Regions from separate parts of the Homo sapiens genome. Here region 1 is reported to be linked to region 2. The links are microRNA targets in miRTarBase. Many come from high-throughput screens and were not tested one by one. Region 2 holds a microRNA gene; the other region holds the end of a gene's coding sequence.

Region 1 (3,000 bases), not on the chromosome of region 2:
AAAAGACTGCATCTTTATGTTTTTGATTTCTCTAAAAGGTTATTTATGCTTCCTTCTGTTTGGGAAAGATAAATTAAGTCTTGTGCGCTATAGAGGATTTTTTTTCTTTAAGAAAAACGAATGTTGATGCATTTTATAGCCCGAGTGAGGAACAGAGATAGAGGTACTTTGTGCCATTGCTATTAAAGAAAAAGAAAATGTCTCTTTTTTTTTCTGGAAGAATAAGATTTTAATTAAAGCACTTGCACCCTTTTGTATGTGAGCTGGTCTCAAACAAAGTCCTCACCCACAGCAGTTTCAGCAGCTGAACAGTCCCATGGAAGTTCTGACTGGCAGGCATCAACAGGGCTATTAGCACCCAGCATAGTTTGCCCTGAGTACGGAGGATGGATGCTTTGGCTCTAACTACTCACCAATAATTGCTCCTTCCTTACCTTCTTTGTTAATGGTAAACTGCTGGAAATGGAGTAGTACAGGTAACAATTATTTTTAATTGTCTTTCCAGACCAGTTTTTGGTTGTGTGTTCAGTAAATGATAGTCTGTATCACAGCCTTCAAGTCTGGATTATTTTTCTAAATGCATACTCTACCTGTTCAGTTACACTCGTTGTGGAACAACATTAGCTTATATACCAGTAAGTTGTCGAGAATGGATAACCATCTGTCATTATCACTGACCTTCAAAGACTCATCAAGCAGTCCCTGCATAAGGATTGGAGTGGTTTGAAGTTTCTCTTCCAAGCACTAACATGTCCCTATCCCACAGTCATTTTAATTTGGTATGTGACTGTTTCTTTCATTTCTTTCACAGATAATATTATATATACAGTTATATAAATATATTTCATATTAAATGTTATATAACACAAGAGAGAGAAAGTATAAGTAGAAAGAGTGCCTAGCACCCTAAGAAATTTAAATTAAAATGCTAATTATCCATTGGTGAGTGCAGTCTCGAGGATAGGTGAGTAAACTGCTCTGTGTTGAAGTCACACTGCTGACCTGGTTATTGTAATAAATCACCTCTTTGGTTAATTTAATTTAGTTATTTTGTTATTCATTGTACATTTTTGCTCTGGTTTTAGTAATTTAATTATAATTTATATCACTGTTCCAGGGCATAGTCTCATGATGTGTGTGTGTGTGTGTGTGTGTGTGTGTGTATTTTTCAAAGGGTATGTGAACACCCAGTCATGTTTGTTCTGCCTTTCAAATGAATTTTCCTTCCAGTTTCTCCTACCCGTTGCTTGTTGCTAAGCATCAGGAGAGGCAGTAGCAGCCACAAACTGTGACACAGTTCTTCCAACTTAGAGTGATACCAACCAAGTCTCCTGCATGCTCTGAGAGAGTCTGCGCCTGAGCCAGTTTCAAATCATAGCTTTGAGAATAAAGAGTTGGCTCTGTTATGAGGAAATTAAGGTCCCTTGTTAGTACTCTTTAAAAGGAGAGGTCCTCAGTGTGCTTAATAAAAATTATAGAATTTGTCAGAAGTCTAAACTTAGCCAACTCCCCTACAGGTCAGTACATAGCAATTTATATAATTTTTAGGAGAAGCAAATGGTAACCATTTTAACGAGACCCTAAATCATATAAAGTGGTTGGATATTATTATATCTATATGTTTGTGTCTGAATATATTTATTTCTGCTACTCCTCTGCTATAATCCCAACACTGGCTTACAAAAGAGCAATTCAGGCAATGGATATGTCACATCATTTTTTTTTTTTTTTTTTATCACTTGCGGATTGCTTTTTAAATGCTGTGGTATGAATAACTGGGCATTTAATAACCTTGAGAATATTAATTCATTTACTGATGTGCTTATTCATTTATACTCATTCTTACTCCAAAAAGGATCTAAGAAGACTCGCAAAGATAAAAATAATACAAGAAAAACTAAAATTTAAAAAGGAGAGGGAATTAGGAAAAAAGGAATCAAGGGTAGGAAAGTGAGATGAAATTGGCTCTTACAAAAAATGGTGATGCTCTCACACTTCTACGTGAGGTTGGTTACAAAAATGTGTCAGTGCTTTTCAGCACAGACATGTAGAATAAACACAGAAGATGGACATCTGTTCCCAGCACAGAGAGCTTCTAGGGTCATTAGGTTTTTGTTCTCAGAGATATTCTGATTGGTAAAGGATGGGGTGTTTGACTGAGTGTGGAGTTGGCAACAAAAATATTGGCCTCTTTTACTGGAGCGTGTCCCTGAAAAATGGACAGGAGAGCTAATAGACAAACAAAATCCACATGGAAGTGTGGTGGCTGCAAAACGAAGTTCACAGAATTTCAGGCAAAAACATCATATATGTAATTTACCAAACAGTGGAATTAGAAGAATAAAAACCACAAGAGTTGGTGAAGTTGAAGAGGAAACTCCATGTGGAGACACGGCGCCGTACTTCAGACCTCCCGGTCTACTAATACTGATGGTGTGGCTGGAACCTGGGGTGTGTACAGCCCTATCCAGAGGATGCTCCTGTTTCGGCTGATTCCTCTACACCTTGTGTGGGGAAGGTGGGCACCAGCGGCTCCCTAGCCGCAGCAGCCTCAAGTGCCTCCGCAGCCTTTTCAGCTTCCTCATTAAAGTAAAAAAAAGTGTGTTCTTCTTTGAAACCTATTTAAAGTAACAATAAAGTTTACTGTCTAATCCAATGGTGCCAGTTTTTATATACTACATAAGTTGAAGGAGATCATCTTCAGTACTAGTCCAAAGGTGTCACATCACCATCGGAAAGGACTCCAGAACCATTTACAACTGGGCGTATCTTTGGTTATATGTTAATTGTGCCATACAGATGTTCTGTTCGATTTTACTTGCACTCTCATTCAACATTCTGGAACATCTGATGACGCATCATGGACTTTGGGCAGAGGCTTAGCGGAAAGGGTTAAGAGGAAGGTGATAAACTGGGGGAAAGGCCAGTATTAGGCATGATACAAGCCACTGCCAGCTGACTGCTCCCAGGGAAATGATGGCAGGCGAGGACCATTCCAGT
Region 2 (4,308 bases):
TGCAGCCTTGATCTGAGTCCAAGCGACCCTCCCAGCTCAGCCTCCCAAGCAGCTGGGACTATAGGCGCTTGGCGATTTTTTGTTATTTTTTTGTAGAGATGGGAGTCTCCCTATGTTGCATAGGCTGGTCTCGAACTCCTGGGCTCCAGTGATCCTCCCACCTCAGCCTCCCAAAGTGCTGGGATTACAGGCGTGAGCCACCGCACCCAGCCGACACATTTAAAGAAATGTTTTGGCAACTTATCAAATACCCACAGATTGGATCTAATCATTTAAAAAACACAAACTTGGTTGTAGACTTTCTGTCCTTCTGAGGCCCCATGACTATGTAGTCCCAAACTATTCTCGCCGATCACAAAGGAACATTCTGTTTAGGGCTACTTTTACCTTTGCTTAGACCATCCCTTTATTCAATTAATGTTTGAAACATCATACAGTGGGGGAAACAGCCATGCTATGGAGTGCGCAATGTTTGTTAAAAATTAAACAACCACTCACCCCTCCTTGCCCCAGTGACCTTTTCTTATCTAATCTTTTTCTTGGCACCGGTAAAGAGAACAGCCTTTCTTCACATAATCGCTCCATGGCTTCTCAGCAGAACATAACCAACCGCCTTGCTGAGGTGGCCTAGGGTGACCGGGTCTTCCTATCTTTTGTGCAGAGCTCTTGTCATGCGCAGGAGTTTGGGGAGATGCCCCCCACCCCCCCGCAAAAGGTTTCCTATGGCTTTAAAATAAGAGGTAGTTCAGGAACATTAACTGTTCACTTTACATTTAAGATATGATCTCCTGGAGATGTTGATGTGCCAGCTGGTCTTGTTGAGAGGCAGTTACTGATCTAGCAGGTGTTTATAGATTTTACACCTGTCTTGTTCTTTTTTTTAAAAAGAAACAACCTGCAACTAACTAACTTTATTTCGTATGTTAATGAGACAGATGTGAAAGAACACAAAATCAAAATGCTTCCCAGGATTCACAGCTCTAGTGTTCCTTGGCTTTATGGTTTGGAAGGAAAGCTGATTTATATAGGCAGAGGCTCTCTATATAGGTCCTTACCTCCCCTGTCCTGTTGTTTTGGAATGTGAGCAGAACACACTCAGGTCTACTGTATGAATAGGACACCCTGCGCCCTGAAATTCCATCAGCTTCACAGATCTCTCGTGGATTCTCTCAGAGTGATGACTCCCTCTCCCTTTCTCCAGTGTCTGAACACTACGTGGTAAGGGACTTTCCACGCACAATATTACTCTCAGCAGACAGAAGATGCTTTCCTGGAGAAGAAAGCGGCAGTATCTTCCAGAGGCAATTGGAGTTTTCAAATGTTGGTGGAGTTATGGGGTTGAAGGCTCCAGCTTTACTGGGTAGAGTCTCACGCCTCACAGTGCGCTTGCCCTGGGGCCCACTGGCTGTGTGTGGGTGCTTGTCCTCAAAACTGTAGCAGCCCAGTGCCCCTGGAGAGCCACTTTACCCAGCATCACTATTAGGTGCTCTGCCAGCTCTGTGGCATGGAGAGGAATTGTCTGGTAAGAACGGAATGTTTTCCATTCTCTCCATCAAGAACTCGAAAGGCTGATTGACAGGTGCAAACGCAAATCTGGTCATCTAGGCTGAATTACAAGATGTCTGGTGGAAGTTAAGAGACTTCAGGAGGTATTAAGAGGGATGGAATACCTGGAATTCCTTGGGGGCCAGGAGAGTTGAGCCATCCTCAGAGATGTGTGCATACTGCAAACCTCCTTTAAGCCAGGGCACTGGTATTGTGGGAAGCCCAGTTAGGGATTAGAGGGATTCCAGAATTAAGATCAACAAAGCAGTCTGACACCCTTTGGGGTGCCAGAGATTATCACTTAGATTGAGGACAGGGGAAAGGGGGTACACTCAACTCAATTGCTTCCTATAAAATCTTACAGACATCAATGATCCCAGAGGATGGGGAGCTACAGTGTCATCTCAGATCATTTTCCAAGGGAAGGATAGATGACCCCATAACTCATTATCTCTAAGAGAGAATGAGATTCCACATGCAAGATAGGAATCAAAACCCTTTTCACCACCTTCATTGACTCAGTTATGCAAATGGCCCTAGCTCATAGCCTCTAAGCCCAGAGCAGACAGTGCATCCTGGTTGCTGATTGCATACCTCCTGATGGGTTGTAACTGTGTGCTTTACGGAGGGCTAGTGTAAACATTCTCATTGCAAAGCGTCTTGCATGGATGAGCAGACATAGAGTGGCATTTGCCGGAGCTGAGCACCCCTGACTTCAGAGTTCACGTTTGGCAAAGTGATTTGTTGCACTACTTGGCAATTGAAGCATCCCGAATAGCTTTGTTTTATGGGGTGGGGGGCGGGGGCGAGGGGAAGAGAGTGGAGCTTTCTGTCTCCCTACTAATCAGGAGGGTCCTTGTTTGGGCTTTAGGCCCCTTCCCTTGTTTTCTGGGCAGAGGAATTGCCCCTAGGAATCCTCTGCAGGCCCTGCCAGTTTCAGAGCTCCCTCATTTTCATCTCTCCACTTCAATGAGCTCATTCACTAAGGCTTTCCCACAGCCCAGGATCTGACTTGGGTGGGCCTGCTTGGGTTTTGTGTGCCTCTGTGCCAGGAAGAGAACAGGCACAGGGCTCTGCTTGGCTATTGCCGGCATTCCTGGGCTAGTGCGTCACGGGGTCTCATGGTGACAGCATTCCACTGGAAACACGGAGTCCCGGAACCCAATTTTGAAAGGAATCCTCTCTAAAAATCTTTCAGGAGGGAGAAAACAGAGATTTCAGAGAGTTAACAGTGCTCCTCAAAACAGCGTTTGTCAAGGAAATTAGTAGCGACTTGTATGACACCCTCTTTCTCCTGTGATTTCACTTTCCTAAATGTTGATTGCTCCGGGGTGTGGGGCTTTTTTCTTCTATACCCAAAGCCACCTAGTAGAAGGGTTAAGTGCATAGACTTTTTCCAGGCGATCTCTGTGTTCATAAAGAGAAGTGGGGAAAGGGCTCTAGTGTTTCAAATGTAAAGTAACCATTGTTAGGAAAATGACTTATTCTTTCTTTCATTCATTTATACAAATGTAAGTTCTGGCTATGCTTAGCTACTCAAGGGAAATCAGAGGCAACTGGGTCCTCTAGGGATGTTTAGCAATATCTGGACACGTTTTTTATTTGTCCTCGCTGGGAGGTTGTTCCTGGCATCTAGCAGGCAGAGGCCCAGCGATACTACAGGGCACATGCCAGCTTCCCATCATAAGAAATATCTCCTTCCAAATGTCAATAGTGGTGTTACCAGAAAGGGGTCTCTATCCAGACCCCAAGAGAGGGTTCTTGGATCTCGCACAAAAAAGAATTTGAGGTGAGTCCATAGAGTAAAGTGAAAGCAAGTTGATTAAGAAAGTTAAAAAAAAAAAAAAAAAGAATGGTTACTCCACTGAGCTGCTCCACCGAGGATACTTATTATTACTCCTTCATTATATGCCAAACAAGGGGTGGACCATTCATGAGATTTCCAGGAAAGGGGTGGGCTGTTCCTGGAGCTGAGGGTTCCTCCCTTTCTCAGACCATGTAGTGTAACTTCTGGATGTTGCCATGGCATTTGTAAACTGTCATGGCGCTGGCGGGAGTGTCTTTTAGCATGCTAATACATTATAATTAGCATATAATGAGCAGTGAGGATGACCAGAGGTCACTTTTGTTGCCATCTTGGTTTTGGTGAGTTTTGGCCGGCTTGTTTACTGCAACCAGTTTTGTCAGCAAGGTCTTTATGACTTGTATCTTCTGCCGTCCTCCTATCTCATCCTGTGACTAAGAATGCCTAACCTTCTGGGAATGCAGCCCAGCAGATCTCAGCCTTACTTTCCCCAGCCCCTATTCAAGATAGTGGAGTTGCTCTGGTTCAAACGCCTCTGACAGTGGGATGGTTGAGAAACTTGGGGGTAGACCAAGGGCAAGGCAGCAATCTCAGCCTGTGGAAAACATTTTAGTAGATGCCATTGTAATGTCTGAAGTCATTCAATTATAATGTCAAACTCACTGCAAAACATGCATTATCTAAATATCTCTTATAGTTAGCTTTCTTTCTCTCTCTCTATTTTGCTCTCTCTAATTCTACATTTTAAAATCATATATGTACTGACCAATACGATGTTTGGCTGATCATTGGAAAGGCAATTGGAGAAACTTAGCAGCCCTGTTGAAATCCTCGACATATGCCATCTCCATGCAAATTCAGTACAAGGCACAATAGTAAAGTGTGGCTATGATATCATCAACTTTGAGGGGCCTCATTTCCCCCCCTAAATCCCTAGTCTCAAAGCCTGACTCCACTTT

Evidence for each region. The annotated mature microRNA hsa-miR-4770 reads UGAGAUGACACUGUAGCU and lies in region 2 at 1,935-1,952, opposite strand. An mRNA with a match to its seed (bases 2 to 7 or 8) in the 3' UTR can be bound and repressed. Matches are read on the target gene's strand: a 7mer-m8 pairs with bases 2 to 8, a 7mer-A1 pairs with bases 2 to 7 and ends in A, and an 8mer does both.
Region 1: miRTarBase lists ENO4 as a target of hsa-miR-4770. Seed matches in the 3' UTR shown: 8mer at 1,952-1,959.

Annotation. Positions count from the first base shown.
Region 1 is chr10:116,881,133-116,884,132 of GRCh38, reverse strand. ENO4 (enolase 4) reads right to left here. Exons shown (of 14, transcript NM_001242699.2): 14 at 1,532-2,618. The coding sequence ends at 2,464. SHTN1 (shootin 1) reads left to right here. Exons shown (of 17, transcript NM_001127211.3): 17 at 1-2,656. Among named protein-coding and RNA genes, the nearest start is that of ENO4, 33 kb to the right of the region's middle.
Region 2 is chrX:6,381,973-6,386,280 of GRCh38, forward strand. MIR4770 (microRNA 4770) reads right to left here and starts at 1,991; the gene lies at 1,934-1,991.